Linked DNA regions of Homo sapiens. The protein of the gene in region 2 purifies or fractionates together with the protein of the main gene of each other region. This does not show direct contact. Each region holds a gene or a part of one and is shown on either strand. Other genes may lie near its edges.

Region 1 (4,951 bases), on a different chromosome or scaffold from region 2:
CACGCCTGTAATCCCAGGACTTTCAGAGCCTGAGATAGGGGGATTGCCTTACACCCAGAAGTTCAAGACCAACCAGCCTGAGGAACACAGAGAGACTCTGTCTTTAAAAAAAATAAAACAAACAACTACTTGGGCATGGTGCCACATGACTGTAGTTCCAGCTACTCAGGAGGCTGAGGCAGGAGGATCACTTGAGCCCAGGCATTGGAGGCTGCAGTAAGCTAGGTTCTCACAAATGCACTAGAGCCTGGGTAACAGAGAAACTGTGTCTCAAAACACAAAACAAAGAGTTGAAGCAAAAAGAAAAGAGAGTTCAAATTGGGATGGTGAAAAGGAAGAAATGAAAAAGGTGTTGAGATGGGATAAGAAAAAGAAAAAAATCAGGCATGCTTGAAAGCTTAGGAAAATTATTGTGCCATTCACAGAGGGGGAAAGTTGATGAGTCTACTGGGAATATGCTGAGTTTGGGGCTGTATTACTAACAAATAACCCTCAGCAGAAATTCAAATTATCCAGAACATTGCCTCAAAAAAATGCAAAAGTACTTATTTCCTCAACAAAACATCAAATTTTAATTTAAACACTAATAGCATAATGTGGCATATATCAACTATCCACAATTTCTTTATAAAACAGAAAATTTTGATAAATTTTCACTTACTATATTTACATTTAATAAGTTACTTTTATATAAGTTATTCATGCTTTATTTCAATGTGTATACATTATCATTAATAAAATTTTGGCCAGGTGCGGCGGCTAACACCTGTAATCCCAGCACTTTGGAAGGCCTAAGTGGGTGGATCACGAGGTCCGGTGTTCGAGACCAGCCTGACCAACATGGTGAAATCCTGCCTCTACTAAAAATGCAAAAATTAGCCAGGCGTGGTGGCACGCACCTGTAATCCCAGCTACTCAGGAGGCTGAGGCAGGAGAATCACTTGAACCTGGGAGGCCGAGGTTGCAGTGAGCCGAGATAGCACCACTGCACTCCAGCTTGGGCGACAGAGCGAGACTCTGTCTCAAAATAAATAAATAAATAATTTTAAAAAAAATTTTATCAGACATAGGAAGAAAATAATTTCCTGTTACTAAACAAATTCCAAATAAATTAAGCATTGCCTATATTTAAGAGGGTAAAATTATATACTAATATATGAGAAGTAATGTATTTTATTCCATGAGTTTACACATATACCACACAAAATAAAATAAAATACAATTTACCTAGAAAATGGCTACATATATTTATTCCATGAATGACTGGCCCACTGAGATCAGCCAGTTAATTAAAAAACCCCAGGGTATGAAGAAATAAAAAGAGGTTTCTCTCCTAAAAAAGTTAGGGATGGTGATTAGCTCTCGGGGAGATACAAAGGATAGGGATCAACAAAAAGCACACAGGTAGCTTCAAAAGTAGGGAGAATGTTCTAGTTATTGAGTGGAGGCTTATTGGGTGCTTATTGTTATAAAATTAAATATATATGATATAATTATATATATCAAATTTTATGCAATAAAACTTTTAACATTCCTATGTAATCAATGTAACTGAAGGAAAACAGGAAACCTATTGTAAAACAATTAACTGTATATAAATATTATATCACAATACTTTGTGTACCTTTATACTACTTGCTGCACCTAAGTTATTTTTTCAACAAATATAGAACTTGACAATTTTATATTTTTCTTTAAATTGCCACATTTTTGTAAGAATTTGCTACATACAACAATGTTGTTCAAAAGGAAACTACAAAACAACAAAAATTTGTCTTCCATTGTTCACTGGTTAAACAAGATGAACCAGAAGAGTAGAACAGCTTTCTGAGTAGGTTTCTCTGGGCTTCGGTTAAGGGCTGAGTTTTAGTTTGCAGTGACAACTGAATCATTTAGAAGAAGTAATCCTAGAAACTTACTGTATAGTGAGATATTTTTAATCAGTTAATGAATTAAGTTTACCAAAATACTGAACTCCTCTTTAACCATTTTCCTACCATTTTATAATAACATTTTTCACTATATTGTTGTCCTTCCAGAAGACAGCATGGAGGGACTGTCTGAAACTTCACTTTGATCTTGTTATAGTAGCATTTAAAAGACTATCTTCTCTCACAGGTTGGAACTCTAAATGTATTTTCCCAAAGAAATACTCAATCCCCCACACTGCAATGGGAAGATAAAATGTAAGGCATAGTGCTTTGTATGAAGGACTCTGAAGTTTGTAAGATCAGTTAAGCACACACAGGTAAATACAGACAGATTAAGATAAGTCCTCTCTAATAGCAATCAACAGGAGGTGACAGTGGAAAGAGTCAGAATTTACAGTCAGAGAAAACCAGATTGAAATCCTGACTCTTATCACTTACTAATTTTGAGGCCTTATACAAGAGCCTCAGTATTCTTTTTTAAAATGGACATAATATTGTTCTAGGAGGCTGCAGTGTGGATTAAATAAAATAAAACAAAGTATCTTGTAAATATATACTTATTGTCTCATAGAAGGGGCTCTTCAAATAATGGCTATTAATATTTATATTTTTCTAAATTATTATTAATGATGAAGATGGCATTATTGATTTTGGTAGTAATAAACATAGTTCTAAGGAGTTAAAATGAGACTGTAACACCAGAAAAGGGGCTCAGGTAACTAAAAAAATCAGTGATGTCATTGTGTCATTGTGTGTAATTACAATGATAGCTAAGAGATTTAAAAACAAAACCAAACAAACTTAACAAAAAAGCTGCCCTCTCTCCTCTTCAAACCTACCAATTTCCCTATGCTAGAGTAAGAGAAGTTATGGCAGATAAAAGGTCTATGATTTCTCCTTAAGTATTGCTAAATCTCTCAACTGGAATTAGAGGAATTTTGTCACTTAAGAAACAGCCTACGTCATTTAAAATAATTTTATTCTAAAAATAACTGTATACTGATAATTACAACAAATTTACCATATGAATAACATAACATTTTGTTATAATCAGATATTTAAACTACTTTGAGCAACTTCCCCAAATCATTTATTTAGACTTTTTTTTTCGGTTGGGTGGGGGCGGGGGTGGTACTTAAGCCCCATCTACATTATAGCTTTCAAAATTTCTTTAAATCAATACTATATGAAAGGCTTTCTTTATCTCCCTGGGCAGAAATAATCTTGTCCTCCTTTAAGAGCCCATAGTACTTTATTCATGCTTGAATTGTAATGCCATTCATGTCTTCTATTATGTTTATTTAGGTAGATAGCCTTTATTTTTCCTAACACTGTCCACTGAAATCATTTAATATTTATTAAATAAACACATAAAGACATGTGAATATGCTTAATGATCTATAAAGTGATTTGAAATATAAAGATATGTTTTACAGTTAAAATATTGCTAATACTCCATTTAATGCATTGCAGTGTAGTTTACTAGAAATACTATTGTAACTTAAAATCTTTAACACAGCCTCTATATAATCATTAATTGCCAATGATTTATTAAAACACTGCATACATTACACCCTAATAAATGGGGAAGACTGATGTTAAAAAATATACCAATCCAGCCCTAGAAATACTATGAGTCAACCTCAGTATAAGCCCAAGGAAGACTTTAAAAATAAATTAAAATTCTAGTTAACAAAAAAGTTAGATGCCCAAGAAAAGCCCAGTACATGTAAGATTTCTAGTAATTCGTGATTATTACCATTAAAAAGATCCATAAAAGGTGACATATTGCTAAATTTTAATTTTTATATTCAGTTTATTCAACATTTCAATGGAAATGAGAAGTATTAATCTAATTGTCTAAACAAAGTTCTCACACAATCAGGTAGAGGTTTACACTAGTTATTAATATCACAGTATGGCACCTGACAACCACTTTCTTTATTTTCTTCATTTAATGAAATACAGAAAAGAATTCTATTATTTCCTGGAAGTGTGGATATACTTTTTTTTTTTATTATTTGTGTCTCCTAACTAGTTCTGAAGAGCAGTAATGCTTTCATTCAATGAAAGAAGAAAATGAATGTTTAATATCAAGACCTATAGAAGAATGTAAATACAACTAAACGTAAGTAAAGGATACAAAATAATAAGGATGACACATGCCACTTCTGGGTCCATAACTGAAGAGTTGTGGAGATTCTATGTACAAATATAAAAATGATTTACTAATTTTTTTCTTAAAATGTTGTTCTTGCCAAGAAACCTTCAAATTTTAATTTGTCCAAATTGTTCCAATTTGCCAAATCAATAATGTATAATCAGAACTTAATCCATCTACATAGTCTCAGTTCTACTTCCAATTCAAGACAAGTAACCATGAAGTTGAGAAATTACAGTACTTTCTTGACTGCCTGGAAGCCAAAAATAAAAGAAAAGTAGCAAGAATTAGTTTTTAACATCCCTTTTACAACATCAAAAAAGGTTACTTAGGGATACACACACACACACACACACACACACACACACACAAAACATTTAGATTTTATAGATGAGGCCTAATTTTGCATACATGGTCAAGTAGTTTTATAAAGTCCTGATTCATGTACTACTAATATCACCAATTTAGGAATTAATAAAACTAGTAAAATCAAAGAATATCAAAATGACTTAACTGATTAAGCCTGAAGTTTTACAGAAATATAAAATGAAATCCCTTTTAACTTTAGCAATGGAGTAGAGGTAAAATACAGTTGTAATAACTTATTTTTTAACCCTATACTATAATGTATTATATTTTACAAAAACAGTGACTGTGACACATCAGAATCTATGTAATAGTCAAATGGTTTCTAACGATCAAGAAATACACTGGGAGATGAATGTCAAGAAGCCATTACTTCCACATAAAATATTTTACCACCACGAGGCTTTGAAATGCAAAATAAATCACAGGTACTATTTCTAAATTATCTGCCATCAGAACCATCAGTCCACTGGATTCTGAACTGCAGTCACAG
Region 2 (4,951 bases):
GCTCATGGGAGTGGCTCAATGCATTTGTCTAGTTCTCTTTCTTCTCTTCTGCATCTAATTTGTCATCATAGCCCATCGTGTTTCTCTTTGCAATCCAACTCAGATTTCGATGTGTTTCATACTCCGTTAGCTTCTTGTTCTGATCCCAGTACTCATTTCAACCTTCGTCATCCTTCCTCCTGCAACAAATCGGCAACCCACCTAGAATCCGCCTGCCATTTTAGTCCTCCTGAAACCCTCGTGTCCATCTCCCAGCCTCAGCTCACATCCTTGCATATCCTGTCTAATTTCTCTACTTGGCCTTTTATGATCTGCCCCTTGATACCTTGCTTATGCTTTTCATCCTACACAGAGTTTTCTTGGATCACTCTAACCAATTCCGATTTTACCTTTCTCCGACCATTTATCACTAATAATTAATAAAATGTATGGAACTGATTGGGAAACTCAAGCAATGGTCAGAGAATGCTCTGACCCTGATGCTCTGTGGGTGAGTTGGGACCGTGTTGGGCATCGGTTTCCCATGATGCTTGGTGCACTGTTAACTACAAGGACAGACTTGAGAGAAATCTTGTGGCAAGGAGAAGATCGGGACAAGAGAAAGGATCCTCCTGCCCACAAGTTTAATGTGAACATCACTTGAATGCGTCCAAATGCAGAAAGAAGGAACCTGCTATGAAGGAAGTAGGCAAAGATAGTGGGGGTGGAAGAATAGAGGTAAGATCTCTTCTGGAAGCAGAAGAGTAGGAGTGTTGGTGGGTGAAATTCTGAGATGAGGACACCGGAGGTGTGTAGGGTGAGAGAGGCCAGGTGATGATTGCTGCTTTGGGAGGCCGCAGTGGCTCCCAGGTCCAGTGGGAGGGGACACCCGGAGAAGGCAATTAGAGAGAGGGAAGTTACAGTCACTAGAGCAAATGAACAAAGGAGAGTAAGAGAATAAATTAAGGATTAATTGAGTCTGAGTGATTAGGGCTGCCCAAAAGAAATACTGGTTTAGAGTCAGAAGCTGTATTTCAAATGAGCAGCTGTCAGGGGGTGAGGTGACTTCCAGGGGCACTGTTAGAGTGTCCAGTGGATCAGTTTCATCCCCTTACTTTCCTCTTTATTAATCACGGGAAGAACATTGGGATGAGGACCCTGCCAACAAATGGTTGTGTGACCTTGGGGCTGGTGGGGTCAGATAGAGATTTGTTTGAGAGAGGTAAAATGGGGAGGTTGTTTTCTCAGAGGGACTTGCGGTAATTTCCATTGTCATGTTCGTAGTCTTAGGGTCAACCAGACTCAAACCATTCTGCAGGATGAGCATAACAAAATCTCACCCTGGGACTGGAAAGAAAAGCTTTGAATGATCCTGGGGTCCCTGGAAATCCTCATCCTGGTGGATTACAGGCCCTGAAAGCTGACAACAAGCTTTGAGCCAGGATTCTTGATGATGGGTGGTTTTCTTTCAGGGAAGAGGAGATGTTAACAATAAGAGAAGCTTGCAGACAGGCATTTAGAAGGAGCTAGGAGAAGAATTCTCTCATGTCAGTAGCCCTCTTAGGGACTACTTAGGTTCGGATCCATTTAGTAACTGAACTCCTAGTGAGCTTGTTTGCAAATCCTCTCTATTGTCCCAGCCGTGAAGTACTTCTCTGGCTTCCATAGTTACCTTCTCCCTGGCTGGTGAAGAAGTGGCCCATGTTTCTGGGGTTTCCCAGAATGTTACAGTCAGCCTCAAAGCCCATGTGGAAGGTATATTTCCTGGTTTCTATTGCAAAAGTTCTGTAGTGGTGTTGCTGCAATGAAATGGAAGTCCAAGGCATTCCCTGTTAGTGACGGAGTGTTCAGAGGACCTACACGTAATTGCTTTCATGTTCGTTACCCAAGTAGGGGACAGAGAGAGAGGAGCCACTGACACGTGAACCCAGGGAGACCTCCCCTGGATGGCTGGGTGCAGGTACTTACCACCCACCAACCGATGATGAGTATCTGCCAATTTACTGGAAGAAAACCTGAAATCTAGCTGTGGAGCCAAGATAGATGCAGAAGAAAGCGAGTGGAACAGGAGAAAGTGTATAGGAACTCAGAGGCTGGCAGGGCCTTCCTGAGTCTGGGAAGGGCTGAGGCGGGAACGAGGACACATTTGCTCCCTGGGACACGTGGTTCTTAGTGTGCAGGGGAAACCCGCATGTGGTCACTGAGGGAGAGGCACAGGCCCACACATCTCATCACCATGAAGGAAGGAACAATTCAATGTGGCCAATTTGTTTTTCTACTATGGCAAGCACTTTTTTTCCTTTAACATTTTTGGTATTTTAAGAGTTTTTGCACATTTATTCTGCTTCTAATGAAGTTTTAATTGTTTCTCTTTCCTCCTGAGTTTAGAATCTGATTCATAATGTACATGGGAACCCATGAATTTCACTCATATTTAATGCATAACCAAAGATATAAACTGAAATGATACATTTTGAGAAGATCAAGAAAAGAAAAAGAAAGCTTACAGGAAAAATGATATCCTTAGTCTTGAGTCAATTGGGATATTGTTAAAATGAAGCCGAACAGCACACTGAGGTGATAGCCACTAGAAGTTGTATTCTCTTCTTTTCCACAGCAGGTTTCTGGTTTTCAAAATAAAAGCAATTATGATTTAAATTCTTCTAGCTTTTGCTAGAGTTTATATTTATTTCATAATCAAAGAAACTTTACATGAGGAAAGTTCGGTCTCACACACACGCACACATGTGTGCACAAATGAATGAAAGATATTCCACCATATTTTTTTTCACCAATTTTGACTGTGGTGTAGAATTCAGTTAAATTAGTTCATGTGTAGCAGTGAATTGTCTGTTGATCTCTGTTATTTCTTCCAGTGCTTTGGGGTTTTTATTTTTATGGTTCCTTTCCCTTTGTCTTTCCCTTTCCCTCCCCTCCCTTCCCCCTTCCCTCCTTTTCCCTTCCCTCCCTTTCCCTTTCTCTCCCCCCCCTTCCTCCCCTTTCCCTCCCCTTCCCCTCCCCTTCCCGTTCCCTACCCTCTCCTCCCCTTCTCTCTCTCTCTCTCTCTCTTTCTCTTTATCTCTCTCCCTCCCCTCCCCTCCCCTCCCCTCTCGTCTTCTCTCCTCTTCTCTCCTCGGGGCTCATGAGTGAGTTACTTTTGAGAGATGCTATTTTGATAGTGGCAGGACCAGCAACAAACCTGTACCATCTCAGCATTCAGGAACAATGGTGTCCACATGTCTTTTTGAGGTTGTACAGGGCATTCTTAAGGCACATTTGAATAGTCCCACAGGCTGAGAGGAGTTCCTCTGATCTTAAATACAGCATCAGCCTGAGGAGTAACCATTTCTAGTCAGGAGATCAGAGCTTTTTTACGCCGTGGCCTACCTACTGCTGTTGGCAACTTTATTTCTTGTAGGTGCATTGATATGTAATTGTCTGGCAGGTCTGTTCTAAGCATTGCATGTGTATTTTCTCATGAAATCCCTAGAAAATCCCTCAGAGGTAGCTACCTGCAAAGAAGTGAAGTGAGCCCAGTGTTTGCAGACACAGGCAGTGGAGCGACAGTTTCAGACCTGGGCAGGCTGGCTCTAGAACTCTCACTTAATCTTGCCATACAGGGGCCCTTTCTGCTGGAGATGGACATATTTTAAAATGAGAGGGAAACTTGGTGCCCTGCTTCTACCTGCAGGAAGTTACTTTATAATATCAAATGTGAATTTCTTACATTACCAGAGCCTTGCAGGCTGTGTGCCACATCATAGGTCCTGTGTTTAATGTTTGTGGAATTGCATCGAACTGATTCCATGAGATAGTATTTTACATAATAAATACAGAGTAGGGTAATTATATGCAGTTTACTAGGGTACCTTAATGCAGTGTGTGTGAACGGGATACCTCTTTTATCTGTAGCATTATACCAGGTACCTAAGAGATACCATGAAGGTGGAAGCCATAGTTCCCGTAGAGTTCAGATGCTCAAACAGTGAAACCTTATATGCATCAACCTGGGAACAGTAAGCTTATGGTTCTAGGGGGATTGTGTCCTGTGTAAAATTCAGAGGGTCCAAAAGGTGAAGAGATGATGGATGTGGTCATGATATTGGGCTCCAAAACTCACGGAGTAAATGGCCAATGGTGAAGTAAATGGTGGTAAAAGCAGAGATTCTATTTCATTATAAAATATGAAAAAAACATGAAAGGCAGAATCCAGACTATAGAACAACATGTAAGGCAGGAATTAAAGTTTCAATGAAATGCCGCCTTGATCTCTAAAAGTGCTCCAAAATCTCTTTTGTAGCGTTTCAGGAAATTTTGATTCATTTTATTTTTGAAACAGTTGACATTTGGGGGAGTGGGCTAAGGGATGAAAATATGTTTTAAAGTGCTTGTTTTTTTAAGGACAATATTTTCAAGAACTGTACTTCAGGAGCATGTCACAGTTATGAGCCTGTAGGCAAGAACAGGGTTTTTTTTTTCCTCTCCTTTTAGGGAAGAACAACATATTGAAGGATGATTAAGACACTTGAAAAATGTAACAGAAACATACACACACACGCATTGCATACACAGGATCCAATCCCTGATGCCCTTTGCCTCTCTTCTTGTTTTATTTCATTTATTTATTTATTTTTAGACAGAGTCTCACTCTGTTGCCAGGCTGGAGTGCAGTGGTGTGATCTTGGCTTACTGCAACCTCTGCCTCCCAGCTTCAAGTGATTCTCCTGCCTCAGCCTCCTGAGTAGCTGGGATTACAGGTGCCCGCCACCATGCCAAGCTAATTTTTGTATTTTTAGTAGAGATGGGGTTTCACCATGTTGGCCAGGATGGTCTCGATCTCTTGACCTCATGGTCCGCCCACCTCAGCCTCCCAAAGTGCTGGGATTACAGGTGTGAGCCACCGCACCCAACCCATCTCTTCTTATTTTTTAGACTATCCCGTTAGTTCCCTTTGGTCTTGGACATGTCTGTC

What was found. The genes of interacting proteins can lie anywhere in the genome.
Region 1: the proteins of RYR2 (region 2) and CAMK2D purify together in Homo sapiens (co-immunoprecipitation; one study listed by IntAct). This does not show direct contact.

What each region holds. Positions count from the first base shown.
Region 1 is NC_000004.12:113,750,746-113,755,696, forward strand, and holds part of CAMK2D (calcium/calmodulin-dependent protein kinase type II subunit delta), read right to left. Parts: intron 4,346-4,951; coding exon of another isoform or gene 4,296-4,345; exon of another isoform or gene 3,728-4,295; intron 1-3,727. UniProt on the Homo sapiens protein: Calcium/calmodulin-dependent protein kinase involved in the regulation of Ca(2+) homeostatis and excitation-contraction coupling (ECC) in heart by targeting ion channels, transporters and accessory proteins involved in Ca(2+) influx into the myocyte, Ca(2+) release from the sarcoplasmic reticulum (SR), SR Ca(2+) uptake and Na(+) and K(+) channel transport.
Region 2 is NC_000001.11:237,048,256-237,053,206, forward strand, and holds part of RYR2 (ryanodine receptor 2), read left to right. Parts: intron 1-4,951. UniProt on the Homo sapiens protein: Cytosolic calcium-activated calcium channel that mediates the release of Ca(2+) from the sarcoplasmic reticulum into the cytosol and thereby plays a key role in triggering cardiac muscle contraction. Aberrant channel activation can lead to cardiac arrhythmia.